Regions from separate parts of the Homo sapiens genome. Here region 1 is linked to region 2. Evidence: fine-mapped expression QTL. A gene starts in region 2. The other region holds a variant in brackets. All regions are shown on one strand. Distances are from middle to middle. Region 1 overlaps CCDC57 (coiled-coil domain containing 57). Region 2 holds the start of FASN (fatty acid synthase).

Evidence for each region. PIP is the estimated chance that this variant, and not a neighbour inherited with it, causes the effect. A credible set is the group of variants that fine-mapping cannot tell apart.
Region 1: its variant is the best candidate, but not a certain one, in a credible set for the expression of FASN in whole blood (INTERVAL, PIP 0.73).

The regions. Positions count from the first base shown.
Region 1 is chr17:82,144,288-82,154,853 of GRCh38, reverse strand. It overlaps CCDC57 (coiled-coil domain containing 57), which reads left to right. Exons shown (of 19, transcript NM_001394669.1): 15 at 3,081-3,294. Among named protein-coding and RNA genes, the nearest start is that of FASN, 51 kb to the right of the region's middle. RefSeq lists an enhancer at 4,986-5,045. The variant CA/A (reference allele first, on the strand shown) is at 5,595.
Region 2 is chr17:82,093,422-82,103,987 of GRCh38, reverse strand. FASN (fatty acid synthase) reads left to right here and starts at 5,752. Exons shown (of 43, transcript NM_004104.5): 1 at 5,752-5,867; 2 at 7,536-7,669; 3 at 8,516-8,668; 4 at 10,217-10,390. The coding sequence starts at 7,543. It overlaps CCDC57 (coiled-coil domain containing 57), which reads left to right. Exons shown (of 19, transcript NM_001394669.1): 19 at 2,122-2,518. The coding sequence ends at 2,306. RefSeq lists enhancers at 1-125, 6,528-7,443 and silencers at 4,580-6,059, 6,130-6,319, 6,340-6,549, 6,610-6,659.

The DNA.
Region 1 (10,566 bases), 51 kb before region 2:
GGAGAGACAGCGTCAGGGCATCATCTGTAGAAACGCCACGTGGGACCCTGGGCTCTGTACAGGAGAGACGGGCATCAAGTCATCATCCGTAGAAACGCCACGTGGGACCCTGGACCCTGCACAGGAGAGACGGCGTCAGGGCATCATCCGTAGAAACACCACGTGGGACCCTGGACCCTGCACAGGAGAGACGGTGTCAGGGCATCATCTGTAGAAACACCATGTGGGACCATGGACCCTGCACAGGAGAGACAGTGTAGAAATGCCACGTGGGACCCTGGACCCTGCACAGGAGAGATGGCGTCAGGGCGTTATCTGGACGGTTGGTGACATTTGCACACGGGCCACGGACCAGGTCACGTATTGTGTACACCCACCCAAGTACTGAGGTGTGACGCGGCACTGCGTCTCCAGCCTACCTCCTGTAGTGCAGGAAGCCAGTGCAGGGTGGGTGAGGAAGTGCACAGGGGTCCAGGGACTGTCCCACAGCACTCCTGACGAAAGCTGGTCCCCTTCCACGGCCCTAGCCAAGGAGCCAGGTCTGCAAAGCTGGGACCAGGTGTGTGCGGAGGCACGTGTTCCCACTTCTCCCATGGCAGAGGGAGAGCCTGTGGACAACAGTGGGGCACTCTGCTCCCAGGCAGGTCCCACTGGGCTGAGCCGCACAGCCTGGCTTTGGGCTTCCCTGACTGCACCACCCACATCAGCTGCCTCTAGCCCTTAAAATACAAAACTTCCCCCAGTCACTGGCCGCCAGGGCTGAGTTGGGGGATGTGTTACATCCCTGGGTCCACTGGGGGGCAGTGTTGGCCATGGTGTTGGTGCTGGCTCTGCCGAGAGGCGTTGGAGTGGCTGTGTGGGGCGGTGAGCGCCGGCCCAGCCTGATGGAACCCACTGTACCAGGCCCAGGCCTCAGCCTCTGAGAAGGACTTCCCTGTGTCACTCACTCATACATGTCCTCAGGACGTGAAGACATTTCAGCAGACCAAAGTTTCCTTCGAATTTTCTTCGAATCGTCCAGATACTTGGAGACATCTCCTCCTCACCTGTGGGGTGCTGGGGCAGTCCTAGGCGTGGGGGCAGATGGGTGGACAGCTGCTGCTGCCCTGCTGGGGGTGGGCAGCCCTTGGAGCACACAGTGGTGAAGACATTCCTGAATATGTCTCAGGCTGTAGAAATCTTATTTTGTGGAAAGATTTTAGAGAATCATCAAAATAAACTTTTACCAAATAACATTTTACCAGAAACTGAATCCGAGAGAAGTAGAATCGTTCACTCCCTGCCCCCCAGGTCACTGTGTGCAGAATCACGTGACTAGGACATGGGCCCTGTGATCCATGCCCTCCTTCCTTTGCCTGTGGGGTCAACAGCAAGAAGGCCCCTCAGTGCCCCTCAAGCCTGGCACCAGCCGCAGGGCCTGGTGTAACTTTGCAGGGAGAGGGGACTGCTTTTGAAGACGGAATTTTCTCTTAAATCTCTAAGTGTTTTGAGGTTTGCAAAATCTGTTTTCGGGATTGTTCTTTCTTCAGTTAAAATAACAAAATAACCCAGTGTGTTCCTGTAGAGGATCCAGGGTTTTAGAACCGGACTTGCGAGTCTCACCTGCCTGGCCCCTCTCCCCCAGCCCCAGGCCATCTGCAATCTGTTTTACCAGCACAGGCCTCCCTTCCTCTCCCTCTGCCTTGGCCTCTCCCACACCCAAGAGCCCATTCCTGTCTATTCTCCCAGGGTGGTGAGTGAGCCTCTGCACCACACTTGCCAAGGGTGCTCACGGAGCAGGCATGAGGCCCGCTTACTGGAGGAAGCGAGTCTGGACTCGGGCTCAGGCCTGTGGCGAGCCTTCATGGGGGCTGCCCTGCACCCGTCCTCAGCTGGGGCCTGCGGCACCATAGAACTTTCTCTGTCCAAGAGGAAAGCAGACATCTCTCCCCTTCGATGTGTCATCCCCCGCGGCCCCCGAGCGTCCCACATGAACCTGCGGCACATGCCCGGAGGCACTGCATACAGTGGCTGCACCCCAGGCCATCCAAAGAACAGCAGCACCTGGAAGGCAGCAGCACCTGCCAGCCCTGGAAAGGCACACCAGGAAGCTGGCGGGGACAGGGTGTGCTGGCCTGTTCCAGGAACTCGGAGCTCATGTGGCCAGGGCCAGGTGCAGCCTGGCTCCTTACAGGGGCCAGGAGTGGCACGGGAGAAGTAGGTCGTCGGCTCCCGTCTTGCCAGGGCCTGGACACTACTGCTTTTTCCTGTGCCCCCATTTTTGGTCCAGGCATCCCTTTGTGTTGGGATTGCACTCTGTAGCACTGGAATGATGTGGGCTGCAAGTCCAGGTTGGGCTGAGTGAGGACAACACAGTGCTTCCCAGGGGCTCAGATCTAGGGTTGACCCAGGCTTGGGGTGCTAAGGGGGAGCCCAGCCAGCTCCTGCCCCTGTGTCGGCCTCCTCCCTCTCCACTGCCTTTGTGCTCCCCCTGCACCTGCTTCAGGAGGGAAGCCACAGCCGGCCTGCAGGGTGGTTGTGGGGTGTCCAGCTGGCAGGTAGAGAAAGGAGGGACCCCAAGGAGTGGAGGAGGGCCAAGCCACGCTGGCGGGAGCTGTCCTCCTGGGTCCTGGGCACTGCTAGAGGCCACAGCCTTCTCTCTGCTCTCCCTGGGCCGCCTTCCTGGGTCCTGGGCACTGCTGGAGGCCACAGCCTTCTCTCTGCTCTCCCTGGGGAGCTGCTGTGCTGGTTGGGTGTCCTCAGATTCTCCTTGTGTTCACTTGAAAGACACAAAGGCATAGATGACCAGAAGGCAGGGATGGCGGGGAGGAGGCGGAGGGCTGTGAGGGCCTGGGAGATCTGGGGGCCACCCTGGCCTGGGAGATCTGTGGGCCTTTATTCTATTTGTGGAAGAGAAGGAACCCACTGAAGCACTGGGAGCAGCGACTCTTTTTGTCTTTCTTTTGGAAGGATGTCACCCAGTGACAGCCAGCAGTGCCCACCCTGGAAGAGCAGGTGAAGAGGCTCCTTGGGTGGGCACCCCTGGCGTCCTCCCATGAGGGCAGCCTCACAGGGGTGTCTGCCTGTGAGTTTTGTTACAGGGCCTCACCAAGAGAGGGCCTATGGAGGCCGAGGACCAGGGGGAGCTTTTCCTGCACCTCCGGTCAGTGGCACGTGCCCCCCAGACCTTATCTATGCACCGACTCCAGAGAAAGCTGAAGGAGGCAGCCAGAAAAATCATCAGCCTCCGCCTGGAGAAAGAGCAGCTCATCGAGATGGGGAACAGGCTCCGTGCAGAGCTGGGCCGACCCGAAAGTGAGTCCGGGAAGTGGAGGCCATGGCCTGAGTGTGGGTCAGGTTCTGGGTGTGCACCTGGTTCTGGGTGTGCGCCAGGTTCTGGATGTGGGTCAGATTCTGGGGGTGCACCAGGTTCTGGATGTGGGTCAGATTCTGGGGGTGCGCCAGGTTCTGGGTGTGGGTCAGGTTCTGGGTGTGTGCCAGGTTCTGGGTGTGTGCCAGGTTCTGGGTGTGCACCTGGTTCTGGGTGTGCATCTGGTTCTGGGTGCGGGTCAGGTTCTGGGTATGCGCCTGGTTCTGGGTGCGGGTCAGGTTCTGGGTGTGTGCCAGGTTCTGGGTGTGTGCCAGGTTCTGGGTGTGGGTCAGGTTCTGGATGTGCGCCTGGTTCTGGGTGTGCGCCTGGTTCTGGGTGTGCGCCTGGTTCTAGGTGCGGGTCAGGTTCTGGGTGTGCGCCTGGTTCTGGGTGTGGGTCAGGTTCTGGGTGTGCACCAGGTTCTGAGTGTGCGCCTGGTTCTGGGTGCGGGTCAGGTTCTGGGTGTGCGCCAGGTTCTGGGTGTGTGCCAGGTTCTGGGTGTGTGCCTGGTTCTGGGTGTGTGCCTGGTTCTAGGTGCAGGTCAGGTTCTGGGTGTGCGCCTGGTTCTGGGTGTGCGCCTGGTTCTGGGTGCGGGTCAGGTTCTGGGTGTGGGTCAGGTTCTGGGTGTGCACCAGGTTCTGGGTGTGCGCCTGGTTCTGGGTGCGGGTCAGGTTCTGAGTGTGCGCCTGGTTCTGGGTGTGGGTCAGGTTCTGGGTGTGCACCAGGTTCTGAGTGTGCGCCTGGTTCTGGGTGCGGGTCAGGTTCTGGGTGTGTGCCAGGTTCTAGGTGTGCGCCTGGTTCTGAGTGTGTGCCTGGTTCTAGGTGCGGGTCAGGTTCTGGGTGTGCGCCTGGTTCTGGGTGTGCTCCTGGTTCTGGGTGTGCACCAGGTTCTGGGTGTGCGCTTGGTTCTGGGTGCGGGTCAGGTTCTGAGTGTGCGCCTGGTTCTGGGTGTGGGTCAGGTTCTGGATGTGCACCAGGTTCTGAGTGTGCGCCTGGTTCTGGGTGCGGGTCAGGTTCTGGGTGTGTGCCAGGTTCTGGGTGTGCGCCTGGTTCTGGGTGTGTGCCTGGTTCTAGGTGCGGGTCAGGTTCTGGGTGTGCGCCTGGTTCTGGGTGTGCGCCTGGTTCTGGGTGTGCACCAGGTTCTGGGTGTGCGCCTGGTTCTGGGTGCGGGTCAGGTTCTGAGTGTGCACCTGGTTCTGGGTGTGCACCAGGTTCTGGGTGTGCGCCTGGTTCTGGGTGCGGGTCAGGTTCTGAGTGTGCGCCTGGTTCTGGGTGTGCGCCTGGTTCTGGGTGTGCGCCTGGTTCTAGGTGCGGGTCAGGTTCTGGGTGTGCACCTGGTTCTGGGTGTGGGTCAGGTTCTGGGTGTGCGCCTGGTTCTGGGTGTGCGCCTGGTTCTGGGTGTGGGTCAGGTTCTGGGTGTGCACCAGGTTCTGAGTGTGTGCCTGGTTCTGGGTGGGGGTCACATTCTGGGTGTGTGCCAGGTTCTGGGTGTGCGCCTGGTTCTGGGTGTGCGCCTGGTTCTGGGTGCGGGTCAGGTTCTGAGTGTGCACCTGGTTCTGGATGTGCGCCAGGTTCTGGGTGTGGGCCTTGTTCTGGGTGTGTGCCTGGTTCTGGGTGTGCGCCAGGTTCTGGGTGTGCTCCTGGTTCCGGGTGTGCGCCAGGTTCTGGGTGTGCGCCTGGTTCTGGGTGTGGGTCAGGTTCCGGGTGTGCGCCTGGTTCTGGGTGCGGGCCAGGTTCTGGGTGTGCGCCTGGTTCTGGGTGCGGGTCAGGTTCTGGGTGTGCGCCTGGGGTCAGTGGGAGGGCTCTGGACGCAGCCTTCTCAGGAAGGCCCGAAGGAGCACAGAAGCCCCTCTTGTGAGCGGGGCCTGGTCGGAGGCCACTGCACAGAGCAGGACCTCATCTTAGCTGCGGGCGCTCTGGGGACCCACTTCGCTGGCAGCATTTGTGAGAACAACACCGCAGGTTAGCAAAGCAGCCGGCATTTCTGTGCGGCTCTGTGGTGAGCAGCGAAGATGGCCGCAGACTTCTCCAGGTAAAGGCAGCAGTGTCTCCTGACTGAGGTGGAGGCTGGGCATCTTGGACACAGACACCGGAGCTGACTTCCTAAGAAAGGCAAGGGGCACTGGCTTTATGACTGAGTGTTTCAGTGAGTCATCCATCTGTTCCTCCATGCATCCACCCACCTACCTATCCATCCATCTATCCAACCACCCATCCATCTATCCATCCATTCACCCACCCCCCC[CA/A]TCCATCCATCCATCCATCTACCCATCTACCCACCCACCCATCCATTCATCCACCCACTCATCCATCCGCCATCCACCCACCCATCCATCCACCCACCTATTTATTCATCCACCCATCCATCCATCCATCCATCCATGCAACCACTTATCCCATCTACCCATCCATCCATCTACCCACCCACCCATCCATCCATCCACCCACCCAACCATCCGTCCACCCACCCATCCATCCATCTACCATCCATCCACCACCCATCCATTCATCCATCTACCCATCTACCCACCCACCCATACATCCATCCATCTACCATCCACCCACCCACCCATCCATCCACCCACCTATCTGTTCATCCATCCATCCATCCAACCATCCAACCACTTATCCCACCCACCCATCCATCTGTCCATCCACCCATCTACCCACCCACCCATCCATCCACCCACCCACCCATCCATCCATCTACCATCTATCCACCCACCTATCTTTCCATCCATCCATCCACCCACCCATTCACCCACCCACCCATCCATGTATCCATCCACCCATCCGTCTGCCCACCCACCCAACCATCCATCCATCTACCCATCCACCCACTCATTCATCTATTCACCCACCCACCCATCCATCTATCCATCTACTCACCCACCCATCCATCTATCCATCTACCATCCACCCACCCATCCATCCACCCACCTATCTATCCATCCATCCATCCACCCACCCATTCATCCATTCACCCACCCACCCATCCATGTATCCACCCACCCATCCATCCACCCACCCACCCACCCAACCATCCATCCATCTACCCATCCACTCACCCATCCATCCACCCACCTATCCATCCATCCATCCACCCACCCATTCATCCATTCACCCACCCACCCATCCACCCATCCATCCACCCACCTATCCATCCATCCATCCATCCACCCACCCATTTATCCATTCACCCACCCATCCATGTATCCATCCACCCATCCATCCATCTACCATCCATCCATCCATCCATCTACCCATCTACCCACCCACCCATCCATCCATCCATCTACCATCCACGCACCCATCTATCCACCCACCTATCTATTCATCCATCCATCCATCCATCCATCCATCCATCCATCCATCCATCTAACCATCCAACCACTTATCCCACCCACCCATCCATCCATCCACCCATCTACCCACCCATCCATCCATCCACCCACCCACCCATCCATCTACCATCCATCCACCCACCTATCTATCCATCCATCCATCCACCCACCCATTCATCCATTCACCCACCCATCCAACCATCCATCCATCTACCCATCCACCCACCCACCCATCCATCTACCATCCATCCACCCACCTATCTATCCATCCATCCATCCACCCACCCATTCATCCATTCACCCACCCATCCAACCATCCATCCATCTACCCATCCACCCACCCATTCATCTATTCACCCACCCACCCACCCATCCATCTATCCATCTACGCACCAACCCATCCATCCATCCATCTACCATCCACCCACCCATCCATCCACCCACCTATCTATCCATCCATCCATCCACCCACCCATTCATCCATTCACCCACCCACCCTTCCATGTATCCATCCACCCATCCATCCACCCACCCGCCCAATCATCCATCCATCTATCCATCCACCCACCCATCCATCCATCCATTCGTACACCCACCCACCCATCCATCTATTAATGTATCCATCCATCCGTCCACCCACCCATCTATCCATCCACCTACCCACACACTCACCTGTCCATCCGTCCATACACCTATCCATCTATCCATCCAACCACTTATCCCACTTATCTATCCATCCATTCACCCACCCATCCATCTGTTCATCTATCCACCCATGTATCCAATTAGCCACTCTCACTCATCCACCAACCCACCCATCCATCTATCCATCCGCCCATCCATCCACCCACCCACCCACCCATTCATCCATCCATTCATCTATCTTTGCATCCACCCATCCATTCATCCATCTATCCATTCATCCATCCATCCATCCACCTACCCATGCACCCACCTATCCATCCATTTATCCAACCACTTATCCCACCCACCTATCCATCCTTTCACTCACCCATCCACCCATCCATCCAATCATCCAGTCACTCATCCACCTACCATCCATATATCCATCCACCCATCCAGTAGAGGAGCCCCTGCTGAGTGCCAGATACTTTCTGCCTTCTTCAGTTCCTATGTCGCCAGGCCCAAATCTGGCTAAAGAGATGTTTCCTCGGCTGTGTGTGGTGGCTCACGCCTGTAATCCTAGCACTTCCCGAGACGAGACTGTGTGTGTGCACGTGCATTTGTATGTGAGACTGTGTGTGTGCACACACGTTTGTTTGCGAGACTGCACAAGCGTTTGTGTGCAAGACTGTGCATGTGCGTTTGTATGTGAGACTGTGTGCACACACGTTTGTGTGTGAGACTGTGCACATACATTTGTATGTGAGACTGTGTGCACACATGCATTTGTATGTTAGACCGTGTGTGTGCATGCATGCACACATCCATAGGGAGGACTCAATGGAAGTTTGTCGATTTATTGGCAATTTAGAGAAGAAAGTAGAGTGAGAAGAGAAGAATGGGGACTTTTGGTTTGGCTTTGATTATACCAAACATACCCCATTTGTTTCTTTTTGGGAAGGCCGTCCTCCCCACCTAAACATTGAGTTCTTAGCTGGGCATGGTGTTGTGTGTCTGAAGTTCCAGCTACTTGGGAGACTGAGGTGGGAGGATTGCTTGAGCGCAGGAGGTCGGGGCTGCAGTGGGTATGATCCTGCCTGTGAATAATCACTGCACTCCAGCCTGGGCAGCACAGGAGATCCAGTCTCTAAAAACATTTAAAAAAATAAAAAAGATGAGTCCTGATTGCAAAGGTTTAGGCAAGACTGACTGGTCTATCTGCATTTTTTTCCTAAGATCACTTATCCGGTTCATAAATGATGTGGCTGCAATCATTAAGTAGTACAGAATGGCCAGCTGTGACAAACATATCATCATTATTCAACGTGGGACAGCCGTCCAGCCAGGGGGCTGAGCAGGACCTGCTCTGCCTGTGGCTGTTTCTAGATGCTTCTCTAGTCCACTTCACAACAGCTACTCTGCCCCAGCACCGGTGGCCCAGGGGTCACCTGCAGCTGCCTCAGTGCATGTCCTCACCTGTCCGCCTCTGGGAAGGGGCCGCATCCCGCAGGGAGCAAGCTGACCGCCACTTCACTGGCTCTCGGCTGCTTTCAGGCATAGAGCCTGTCTCATGCTGCCGGTGCCCATATAGATGGCTGTGGGGGGAGGTGCCGGGGCGTCCCCTGTGCTCTGGTGACACTGGTTCCTGCCAACACCCCATTCAGACTGTGGAGCCAACTCCAGCAGGTGACATGGTGGGCCCCCTCTGAGATAAGGAGCTTCACCTGCCTGCTACAGGGTTCCGGCCGAGACCAGGGCGGGGAGTGAGAACAGCCCCACTCAGGGGCCTGCAGGGGGAAGCAGGAGGCAGGTGCTGTGGGACCCTGCCTGCAGGCCCCTCTGCCCACAGAGTGGGCAGTGCCTGGAGCTCACCCTCCCTCTGCGCCTTCCAGAAATCAGCTGCACATGGCATTTCCTTGATCCTGTAGAAAGCTGGGATTCCTTAAAATGTTGTTTCTAGTAAACTTCTTTATGATAGCTAACTTTTTTTTTTTGAGACAGAATCTCTGTTGCCAAGGCTGGAGTGCAGTGGTGCGATCTCGGCTCACTGCAGCCTCCGCCTCCCGGGTTCCAGCGATTCTATTGCCTCAGCCTCCCAAGTAGCTGGTATTACAGGCGCCCGCCACCATGCCCAGCTAATTTTTGTATTTTTAGTAGAAACGGGGTTTCACCATGTTGGCCAGGCTGGTCTCATACTCATGACCTCAAGTGATCTGCCCACCTCAGCCTCCCAAAGTGCTGGGATTACAGGTGTGAGCCACCGCCTGATCACCTGAGGTCAAGAGTTTGAGACCAGCCTGGCCAACATGATGAAACCCCGTCTCTACTAAAAATACAAAAAAAAAAAAATTAGCCAAGTGTTGGGGCACGTGCCTGTAATCCCAGCTACTCGGGCGGCTGAGGCAGGAGAATCTCGAACCCGAGAGGTGGAGTTTGCTGTGAGCCAAGATCAAGCCACTGCACTCCAGCCTGGGTGACAGAGCGAGACTCTGTCTCAAAAAAAAAAAAAAGAAAAAAAAAAAGAAAAGAAATAAAATTGATTTGGAGGGCCAATCTAAATAGGTAAAAGGATTTCCTGTTTTAAATTTGTGCTTCTTTAATTTTGTGTGTATGTAGGGGGCTTACTGTGGGGCCACTTGTATTTTATCGTCATGTCATTTTCCTGCTGAGTCTTTAATGCATCGGGAAATGATCTAGTGAAAAAGAACAAATTAGGGATCTCGCTTTGTTGTTTCCCAATAGTTGGCAGCTGACTCAATACTCTTTATTAGGCATATGTGCATAAATAGTAAAGTATCTATTTACATTTAATTTATTAGTTAAATGACACGTACGTATTTAAAATCTTATAACAATATATTGAGTTGGAAGTAATAACTTTTGCTCACATTTTATGAAACAGTTGATTGAAGCTCTTCCCAGGCCTGCTCCTTGACCTCGGTTCCCTGTTTACCACAGTGGGGTCTTCCAGGAGCCTGGAGAGCAGTTGATCGGACACAAGGCTTTATACTCAGACTCAGGTACAAGGCAGCCCCATCTTTTCTAGGAAAGAGAAAAGGGAAATGGACTTTTATTCAGGGATCTCTGCCCTTTGCTTTGTCAGTTCCTTCAGCAAGAGTCTGTGGGGAGTACATGCTATGTATCTGTAGATGACTTTCTAGAATGATGGTTTAGCTGGAAATAGAATTTTCTGTATGTTGACATTTTTCTACTACTTTTTTTTTTAAAAGAGATGGGGTCTCGCTCTGA
Region 2 (10,566 bases):
GCTCATGGCCAGTTCCCTGCCACCATCACTGAGGAGGGCTCCGCAGGAAAAGGACCAGTGAAGAAACCAGAGCCTGTAAAGTGGATATTCTGAGCTAGGGGCCGGCCTGCCCTGGGGAGGGGGCCAGCTCACCCTCCCTGCCCCTCCCTGCCCCTCCCTGCCCCGGGGACTGTGACCCACTCACACCTCCCTGCTTCGCCCCGGGATACAGCCAGGGTCCTCCCAGCAGGGCCAGCTCAGGCCTCCCAGGCAAAGGGGCAGGCCCTTCACCCCCCTCCCTCAGCTCACTTTTTCTGAAAATCCCCACAGGCTTTGTCTGAGGAGGATCAAGCCGGGCAAAGCCCCCAGAATCCCTGAGCATTACAGAGGGACAACCAAGGCCTCTGGGTTTGAGGAGATGCCTCAGGGTCACAGTGGAGCACTAGGGCCTGGTCAGAGGACCAGCTTCCCCGCAGGAAGCCCTTTCCACGGGATACCCCACCCTCTGCCAGCCAGTGTGGGGGGTGGGGGGAGGGAGTGGGGATGGGGGCGTTGGCCGGGACCAGGAGGTCAGGCAGGCTTATTGTTGAGAGATAAAGGGTGGTAGCCTTTGTGTGAAGAGGAGGAATTCCTCTGGGGGTTGGAAACAAAGGGAGCAGGCAGCGTCCAGGGCCCCCCAGGACCCCAGCAGGGGGCCAGGGACTGTGTGACCCCAACGGGGCTGCAGGAAAAGGAAGACTGGTTCCGGGTGTCTTGAGACCCCAAGAGTGGATCGGAGTGGAAGAAGCTGAGATGGGAAGAGGGGCCCAGGGCCAGGGCTGGGAGTGTGTGGCTGCCCCCATGGGCACTGCGCAGCCCAGCTGAGAGTGCGTCATTGCCGGTGTCCCCAAAGCACAGACGCTTCCCAGTCACCCAGGCTGCACGCAGACCACACAGGCTGGGCTCCAGCAGGAGGCGTTGGCCGCCCGCTGACCTGCCTGGGTCAGCCTGTCCAGACTGCCCACTGGGCCACATTCAGCCACGTGCTGGAGTCCTCTAGACCTCACCCCAGCCACAGTGTGGCCACGCAGTGGACGCTGAGCTCACATCTTACTGTGGGGTTTTTTTTGTTTTTTTTTTTTTTGAGATAGAGTTTGCCCTTGTCCGCCCAGGCTGGAGTGCAGTGGCGCAATCTCGGCTCACTGCAACCTCTGCCTCCCGGGTTCAAGCGACTCCGCTGCCTCAGCCTCCTAAGTAGCTGGGATTACAGGTGCCCGCCACCGTGCCCGGCTAATTTTTTGTATTTTTAGTAGAGACGGCGTTTCACCATTGTTGGCCAGGCTAGTCTTGAACTCCTGACATGAGGTGATCCACCCACCTCGGCCTCCCAAAGTGCTGGGATTACAGACGTGAGCCACCAAGCCCAGCCCTTGCATGGATTTTTAGTAACATTTTGCTGTTGTTTTACCAAAAAAAACCCCCACATTCTTAATTGAAAAAATGAAAAATAGAGAAAAACTGGCCAGATAAAGAAGATCACCTACAACACCCCTCTGCGAAGATGGTTTTAGCCGATGTTTAGGAAGGGCTATCTGGCATTTAGGCCCCAGCCTCTGTGTGTAGCGCACTCCTGGGCCCTTGGCCTGTGCCTGGCCACGTGGTGCCCACCAGCACGGCCTTTCCTTTGGCCTCAAAAGCCTGGCACTGCTGGCCCATCGGGGAGGCGGGGGCAGGCAATGTGTCTCAGATGGTAGGGACACCCGGGGCAGCCTGGGGGGAGGAGCTTTGAGTCAACCATTTACCCCAGCACCCCTGCCCCCTCCTGGGACCCATTACCACACAGCACCCCTGCCCCCTCCTGGGACCCATTACGAAATGGTCACAACAGGACCATTTTCAGAGCCACATGTCCAGGTGCCCAGTGGAGGGGCAGGCCCAGTCCCTGCCAAGCAGGACCCACTGAGCAAGGCGAGGCCACAGCTCTCTGGTCACTCCAGGATCCTTTGGCCTTCACGGACTCCTGGAGGAAAGCCAGGCCAAGGGTCACAGGGCCCCCGCTGGCCGGGAACACGGAAGTGCTGCACCTGTGCAGTGCCTGTGAGCACAGCCTCCTGCTCCCCCTGCCATCCTGATGCATGCTGTTTTTTCCTCTTTACCTGACAGAGCTCCCAGCTCCTCCAGCAGCCGACAGGAGGCCCGTCAAGATGCAGGCAGGCATTGCCACCCCAGGGATGAAGACAGCAGCCCAGGCAAAGGCCAAGACCACAGGAGCCTCCCGGTCTCATCCTGCAAAAGCTAAAGGCTGCCAGAGGCCCCCCAAGATCCGTAACTACAACATTATGGACTGACTTCCTCCCCCCACCCCGCCCCACTAAGGGGTGCTCGGGGCCTCCGCATGGTGCCTGTGCTTTCACCTACGTGTTGTGGGGGGGTGTGGGCACAGCGTGCAGGGTGGAGGCAGGGAGCTGCAGGGCAGGCTCCCAAATGCTGCTGAGGCGACCCTGCTGACTGAAGGCCTCCCTGAGCACAGGGCCCATTAAAACCAGGTTCCTCCCTGGGGCGTCTGCTTGGCCTTAGCGTTGTTTATCTGTCCTACTTGGGAAATGCAGTATCAAGTGCCTGTGCCAGAGCCTGGCCTGCCCGTGTCACCACCCACAGCCATCTGCACACCAGTGGTGTTGGGGACAGTGTGGCCTTCCTCAGAGCCTGGTAGCAGGTAGGGGGCAGATCAGAAAGCCCACCCACAAAGCAGGCGTCTCCTGAGAGTACCATGGGAGGGGCCCTCCCAGAAGGAGTGAGAGCCTTGGATCCCAGTGAACCGGGCCAAGGTGACCCCTGGAAGCCAGGTGGGCACCTGGGCCTCATGCAGGTTGGGGTGTGCATGTCAGGTGCTGGCAGGGTGGGGGCCAACCGGGGACAGCGGTCACTGCTGGGCCTTCCACGTCCACCCCCACGAAGGATAACAGCAAAATGTCCCTGCCACCTGAGTGCCCGGGGCCAGGTACCTGCAAGGATGAGAAACGCACACGTAAACTGACGCCCGTCCGCCCGGAACACACTGCACTACCCCGCCAAAAAGCACTTCCAAGAGTCCTCGCGTGTCCTCCACACGAACACAATGCTCTGCGACCGGCAGGAGGGTGACTGGGGGTGGTTCATCACACGGACGCAGTGCTCTGCAACCGACAGGACGGTGACTGGGGTGGGGGTTCATCACACGGACGCAGTGCTCTGCGACCGGCAGGATGGTGACTGGGGGGGGTTCATATCCCACCCCCACTCCTCAGGAGCCCAGTCTCTGTCCCCCGCACCCCCCAGGCCTGGTCACACTCTGCCCACAGCAGAGTGCAGGGGTGGAGGCAGCCGGTACCCAGCTGGGTGAATTGACGGGCCTTGCCATATACCCTCGGGCCACCTTTCTGAACTGGGCAGACAGCTTCTCTGGGAACACGATGGGAGAACGCTGCTCCCAGCCCTAACCTGCCGTGCCACCTTGGCAAATCGTGGGACCTTTGCAGCTTTGGTTTGCACCCCCAGTGTAAAATATAGACAGTGCCATCGGCTGGCCTAGCTCACAGGTGTGCGGGCCGGATAACCGTGACAAGCAGAGACCACACCACACAGACAAAGGCTGTGGCCCCAGGGCAGGGGCGTTTGAGGTTAGCCTCCGTCACTTGCTCCATGGGAATCCAGACGGAGTTGGGGATGGGCTGGAGGCTCTCAGTGCTCTGTGGTCTCCCACACATGTCCCCTGGAATCGAGTCACGGCCCTGTGAGGTTTTTTTGTTTGTTTCTTTTTTTGAGACAGAGTCTTGCTCTGTCGCCCAGGCTGGAATGCAGTGGTGCAATCTCGGCTCACTGCAACCTCTGCCTCCTGGGTTCAAGCTATTCTCCAGCCTCAGCCTCCCGAGTAGCTGGGACTAGAGGCACGCGCCACCACACCCGGCTAATGTTTGTATTTTTAGTAGAGACGGAGTTTCCCTGTTTCCCAGGCTTGTCTACAACTCTTGACCTCGTGATTTGCCCGCCTTGGCCTCCCAAAGTGCTGGGATTACAGGCGTGAGCCACCAAGCCCGGCCGCTGCCGCTCACTTTCTGTGGAAGCCCTCAGGGTGCTGGACGAGTCTCCAACCTCCTTGGGAGCCAGCCAGGGCTCCCCTGTAGCTGGCCCAGCCCTCGACAGGCTGCAGAGAGCAGGGCCCCGCTGGCCGCTGATCACCAGCACTGGCAGCCAGGGCCACCTGGGAGGTTTGGAGCATGGAGAGCCGGAGCTGCGTGCCCGCACGCCTGAGGCTGACACAGGGCCTCACCCTGAATCAGAAGAACCCCCGCAGTGGGGACAGCAGTGCGGGGCCAGCCCCGGCCCTGTCTTCCCTTGTCCTTCCTTGACCCTCGGTCCCACCGTGCGTCAACCACAGCCCCAGAAGGGAAAAGACGCGGAGTGGCCGCCTGACCCTCAGGCCTGCTCTCAGGAGAGGAAGGAAGCGGGACACCTGCAGAGGGGCCGGGGGCCCCAGTCTCCGGTTCCCCTTCAGCGGCCCGGGCTTGCTGAGCCCTCAAAGTAGGACACGCAGCCAGAGACACCTGTGGCCTCACAAGGCCCGCTTGCCCCCCATGGGGTGCCTGGCCCCGCAAGCGCGAAGCGGTCAGAAAAGGGAGGCCGCGCTTCAGGGCTCAGGCCGCCCAAGGGGCCACGATTCGAGGAATCACTCGGGAGGGAGGGAGCGCGCGAGGGCCGGGCTGAGCCCCCGCCCGTGGGTGCGCGCCTGGAAAACTCGCAGCCTCCGCCCTGGGAAGTGGGGCAGCGGCTCCCTTTGTCCGCACCACACCAGGTGGGTGTCCCGGCCGACTCCGCTCGCCACGTGGCCGCGCCCCTCCCCTCCGCCGAGCTCCAGCGGCCTGGAGTGCGCTCGCCCGTTCGGCCCTGCGCCTCGTCCGGGTCCCCGGGAAGCTGCTAAGGAGGGGCCGTCGGGTGGGTGGACGTCCGTCTCGGGTCTGGGTTCCCCGCCGCACCCGCGAGGAAAACCGGGGATGCGCTGCGATGACCGGCAGTAACCCCGGCCGGGGCGCCCGCGGCCGGGGTCAACGCCCGCACTTGCGCCGCGGCCCGCGAGGCATCCGGGACCGCCCCGCCGCCCGCCCATCACCCTATCGCCTAGCAACGCCCACCCGCGCGCCGCCATTGGGCCGGTGCGAACACCCCTGGCGCCCGATTGGTTGCTGCTGCCGCCGCGCCGCGCAACGCCGCGCCCTCAGCCAGCTCCGCGCGGGCAGCGACGGCGGCGTGGAGTCGGCGGCCGAAGTGCGGGCACGCGGGTCCGTCCGTCCTTCCGCGCGCCTGTGGGTCCGAGCGCCCCGCCGCAGCCGGCTGGACCCCCGGTGTGGCCACGGGGTAGTCCCCAGTGTGGCCCAAGCATTCCCATCCCGCACACGTGGCCCCGGCGGACACGGGGGTCGGGGATGGCTCGGGAGGCGCGCCGCGGGCTCGGTCGCAGCCGCGTGCGCGTCGGGGCCCGCGGGGCGGGAGGCGGAAGTCGGGGGGCGGTGGTTTCCCGCCCGCCCCGCCCCCGGCGCTCCTCAGTCCCAGCCCCACCCCCCCAGGCGCGTTCCCGCGCAGGGTCCCGGCTCGGGCGGCGGCGCGCACGAGCATCACCCCACCGGCGGCGGCGCGCCGGGTCCCGGGGCGCAGCCCCGACGCTCATTGGCCTGGGCGGCGCAGCCAAGCTGTCAGCCCATGTGGCGTGGCCGCCCGGGGATGGCCGCGGTTTAAATAGCGTCGGCGCCGGCCTAGAGGGAGCCAGAGAGACGGCAGCGGCCCCGGCCTCCCTCTCCGCCGCGCTTCAGCCTCCCGCTCCGCCGCGCTCCAGCCTCGCTCTCCGCCGCCCGCACCGCCGCCCGCGCCCTCACCAGGTACGAGCAGCCGGCGCTGGGGCCGGGGCGCGGGTCGTGGTCGGGGCTGGGCCCGGGGTTCCCGGGGTGGCCCGGCTCCTCATCCTCCGCTCTCGGGGCGCGCGTGGCCCGGCCCCGTATCCAGGGGTCGCCTGGGCGGCCTGTCCGGGTCTCGGTGTTCGTGCCCCTTCGGAGGCGCCCGGGGCCCCGCGGAGTAGGTGGGCGGATGGCGGGGGAAGGACGCCGGGGAAAGCCACCAACAGCCGCCTTCGCTTCCCGTGGGGGAGGCCGCGGACCCTGAAGGGCCTGGAGGAGCCCCCGGCTCGGCCTCCCCGCGCCCACAAAGGCGCCGCCGCATCCTCCTCCCGGAGCCGCCCCGGAGCCGAGGCCCAGCCCGAAGGGGACGCCGCGAGGGAGGAACGGGGGGGCGCAGGGGCCGCGCCGGGACCGGCCTCCCCATCACGTGGCGCAGCCCGGCCGAAGCGCAGGGGTCCCGAGCAGCCCCCGCCCGGGGCGAAGGGAGGCCGGGCGCGCCGCGGTGTTCCCACCCCCTGCCTGGCCGTCGACCCCGCGTGAATAGCAAGCGGCGAGGACCCAGCGTGCGGGCCTGGAGCTGGCCCGGGGCAGCCAAGCCTCTGTGAATCGCAGCGGGTGGGAAGGCGGCCGCCTCCCTGCCGGGACGGCCCAAGGGAGGCCGCACTGCCGAGGGGCGGCGCGCGTATCAGGCCCTGGGGCCTCGTGCAAGTGGCCAGACCAGCGCTGGCCTCCGCCCCCTCCCCCCAGGGCCGCACCAGCCCTCATGCTGGAGGAGGAGCCGGCGGCCTGGGCACCCGTTCCGGGTCTTAGGGACCTGGGCTCCAGGGAGGGCCTCCTGTGGTGTGTGGGTTGGTATGGGGAGGCAAGCGTCTGTGGGTTCACCCGCGCAGGTGAAGGGTGCCAGGCAACACCTGCGTGTCCTGGCCAGGAGTGGTTCTCCAGGTTGGACCCTGCTGGAGGGGTTGGACTGGCTGGGTCGGTCCACAGTGGGGCAGGGGCCACCTTTCCCCCAGAGCATAGGCTATCCCCATTTCGTCCCTCCCCAGCCCTGGTGGCTCTTGGGCTGGCCTGGACAGCGGGCCCCCACCCCAACACGGGTGAGCATGGGTGCTGAGTACCCCCCTCTAGGGCTCCCAGCCACCTCCATGCCCCGGCTTTGGGACCCTGCCTCTCCATTTCTTTGATGGCCCTTAGCAGGCTGGCCACCTGAGGCCTTGTCCCCATCTCAGGTGACCCTGCCTGCTCCTCACTGTGAGCCCCCTGGTGCCCTAGGGATGGCCTGGGACAAGCTCCAGGAGCCTTGGAAGGCTGAGACTCAGGCGAGTGGAAGCCGACACAGGCGCAGAAACCAGTAACTGCTGGGGAGGCCAGGGCTGCAGGGCTCCAGTGGGGTACCCCAGCCAATACCCTGAACTGAATGGGTCAGGGCCCAGAGGCGGGCCTGTTCCCAGAGCACGCAGCCCCTCCCAGCGAGAGCGGGGTCAGGGCCCAGGAACTGGCCACATGAGGAAGGGAGCCGCAGGAGCCAGGGCCCGCACGGACCCTCAGGGTGGTGCTTGGCCCCATGGGTGTCCACCTGTTCTGGGTGCCGAGGCTGTTGACGGGGGTGTCGTGGCCGGGATGTGTGGGGCACTCACACCGCCCGCCCTGCAGAGCAGCCATGGAGGAGGTGGTGATTGCCGGCATGTCCGGGAAGCTGCCAGAGTCGGAGAACTTGCAGGAGTTCTGGGACAACCTCATCGGCGGTGTGGACATGGTCACGGACGATGACCGTCGCTGGAAGGCGGGTATGTGGCTGCGGGGCTCCCCGTGCCTGGGGTGTGAAGCTCCATCTCCACCTTTGTCCTCACAGCAGCCTCCCTGCTGTGCTGTGTCCTCACCACCCAGGCACTGGCCTGAGGCCGGTCCCAGCTGCAGAGCCACTGGTCACCCATGGGCGAGGCCTAGCTGCAGCCTCCTTCCTGGACATTGCACCAGAGTGGCCTAGAAAATGCGCCCAGCCTGCCAGGAGGTTCCCTCAACGGCTGCAAGGCCAACAGGAGGCTCCCCCAATGGCTGCAAGGCCGAGGGCTGGCCCAGGCAGGGCCCATCTGCTTGTTACGGAGGAGCCAAGCTCAGAGGATGGGTGACGGGCTGGGGTCTCTCACCCATGCAGGGGGTGCGGGGGGCCAGAGCCCTTCCGGCCAGGCTGCCCCTGCCTGTGTCTGTCCTGAGCTGGGAGGTTGCATACCAGATGTGCTCCGGGAGGCTGGAGCAACTGCCCCACACCCAGTAGGCTCTTCCACAGAGCAGCTCTACCTGACAGGCAAGCTGTGAGTCAGCATGGTAGAGCCGAGGCACCAGCCCGGCAGATGGTCCCCCAGCCTCACTCCCGCCGAGCTCTCTGCTCTGCGGCCCATCTCAGGATTGGGGCTTGGGGCTTGGGGCTTGTGCAGCAGATCTGGTCGTACCAGTCCCCGCTTTGGGGCCATGGTCTTCCCCTCCTGGGGAGCCTGCTCCATTGTTTGGGCCTCCCAGGCATAGCAGAGAGTCCTCAGTTCCACCATGGCCCCTCCAGGGGCCTGCAGCACCCCACAGGGCCCCCACCTCTGGGCAGCTTCCGTCAGAGATTTAAACACCCGCCTGTCCCACAGGGCTCTACGGCCTGCCCCGGCGGTCCGGCAAGCTGAAGGACCTGTCTAGGTTTGATGCCTCCTTCTTCGGAGTCCACCCCAAGCAGGCACACACGATGGACCCTCAGCTGCGGCTGCTGCTGGAAGTCACCTATGAAGCCATCGTGGACGGAGGTGGGTCGGGCATTCGCGACTGCTGCGCCGAGGGCTCCTGCTGCTCACGTGGAATAGGCAGTGTTTTCTCTTCTTGGTTCTGGTAGAACCAGGTGCTGGCACCACCTACCCTCCCCGGCTGTGCCCCTGGCCTGGCCAACGGGCTCAGGGAGGTGTGGGCCACGGGGTAGGCCGCAGTTTCCCAACTGCACCCCAGAGGTGTCGCGGGTGTGCCCTGACCTGAGCGTACCAGTCTCCTCGCTTCTGATGTCTGGCTGGTGCTGGGGCCGGGGCCGGGGCTGGAGTGACGAGAGGCAAAGCAGGAGGTTCTTGAGGGGCCCTCCAGGCCCCCACCCCCACCAGCCAAGCAGCGGACAGCACCGGCCCTGCTGTCTCTCCCCTCCCACCCTCCCCACTACCCTTGCCCACGTCCCCCCACCCCAGGCATTTCAACCCTCTCCCGCCAGCCTGGCCCTCGCTCTGACTGGCATTTGACCTCGGACAAGCGCCACGCCGTTTTTTTATTTTTATTTTTATTTATTTATTTATTTTTAAGACGGAGTCTCACTCTGTCACCAGGTTGGAGTGCAGTGGCGCGATCTCAGCTCACTGCAAGCTCTGCCTCCTGGGTTCACACCATTCTCCTGCCTCAGTCTCCTGAGTGGCCGGGACTACAGGCGCCCACCACCACGCCCGGCTAATTTTTGTATTTTTAGTAGAGATGGGGTTTCACCATGTTTGCCAGGATGGTCTCGATCTCTTGACCTCGTGATCCATCCATCTCAGCTTCCCAAAGTGCTGGGATTACAGGCATGAGCCACCACGCCCAGCCATGCCATTTCTTAAGATCCAGGTGCTCCCTCCCCGGGCGGAGAAGGACCTCCTGAGGGGGAGGCTGAGCCCTGGGCTGCCCTTGGGTGTGAGCGGTTCACACACCCACCCACCCTAGGGCAGAGCCAGCCCACCAGGGGCGAGGAGGGGCCCTGCTGGCCGAGAGGTGGAAGCCCTTCTCCTGCGCCCTTCCTGCTGCCAGACCCCACCCCAAGACTAAGGTTATGCTCCCCGGGGGTGACCGGTGTCCCTCTCTCCTTCCCGAGCCTGGACACTTGGCCTTTGTCTCCTCGGTTCCTTATCACGGCCTGTTCTGGTGCAGGCTGCCCTTGGCGCTGGAGAGGCCACTGGCCGACGGGCTCATCAGAGCTGCCGGTGACACCAGGGGCCAAAGGCGTCGCCTGGGGACAATGCTGCCCTCTGTCCTTCCTGGAGCCACTCTGGCCGTGCCTGGTGCCCTCCCCTGGGCCCGCCTGCCCCCTCCGCCTCGTTCCCTCTGTGACCTGGTTCCTGTTCCAGGCCTCACCTGGGCTGGCTGCTGGCCACAGGCTCTGTTCTGGCCCCTCTGCAGGACACCTCACCCTCCTTAGGCCCCTTCCAGGGTCCCACTGGGATGGACCCCCCCTCACCCCAAGCCAGTGAGGCCAAGATGGGACCTTCGCCCCAGAGCCGGGTGGGTGGGTGGGCTGGCTGCGCTGTGGGGCCCGGCCGTGGCACCTTGACCACTGTTTGTGGCAGGCATCAACCCAGATTCACTCCGAGGAACACACACTGGCGTCTGGGTGGGCGTGAGCGGCTCTGAGACCTCGGAGGCCCTGAGCCGAGACCCCGAGACACTCGTGGGCTACAGCATGGTGGGCTGCCAGCGAGCGATGATGGCCAACCGGCTCTCCTTCTTCTTCGACTTCAGAGGTGGGTCCTGCCCAGCCTCCTGCGGAGGTGGGTGGCCTTCAGGTCCCCACATGCTGAGCAGAAACCACGTGGCGTGGGCTCACTCCGTGCAGTGTGTGTCCAGCCTGGTGGCAGGAGGTGTGCTCAGGGGTCTCGTGTGCTCACAGCCCCACCTGAGCCGCAGCACCCTTCCTTGC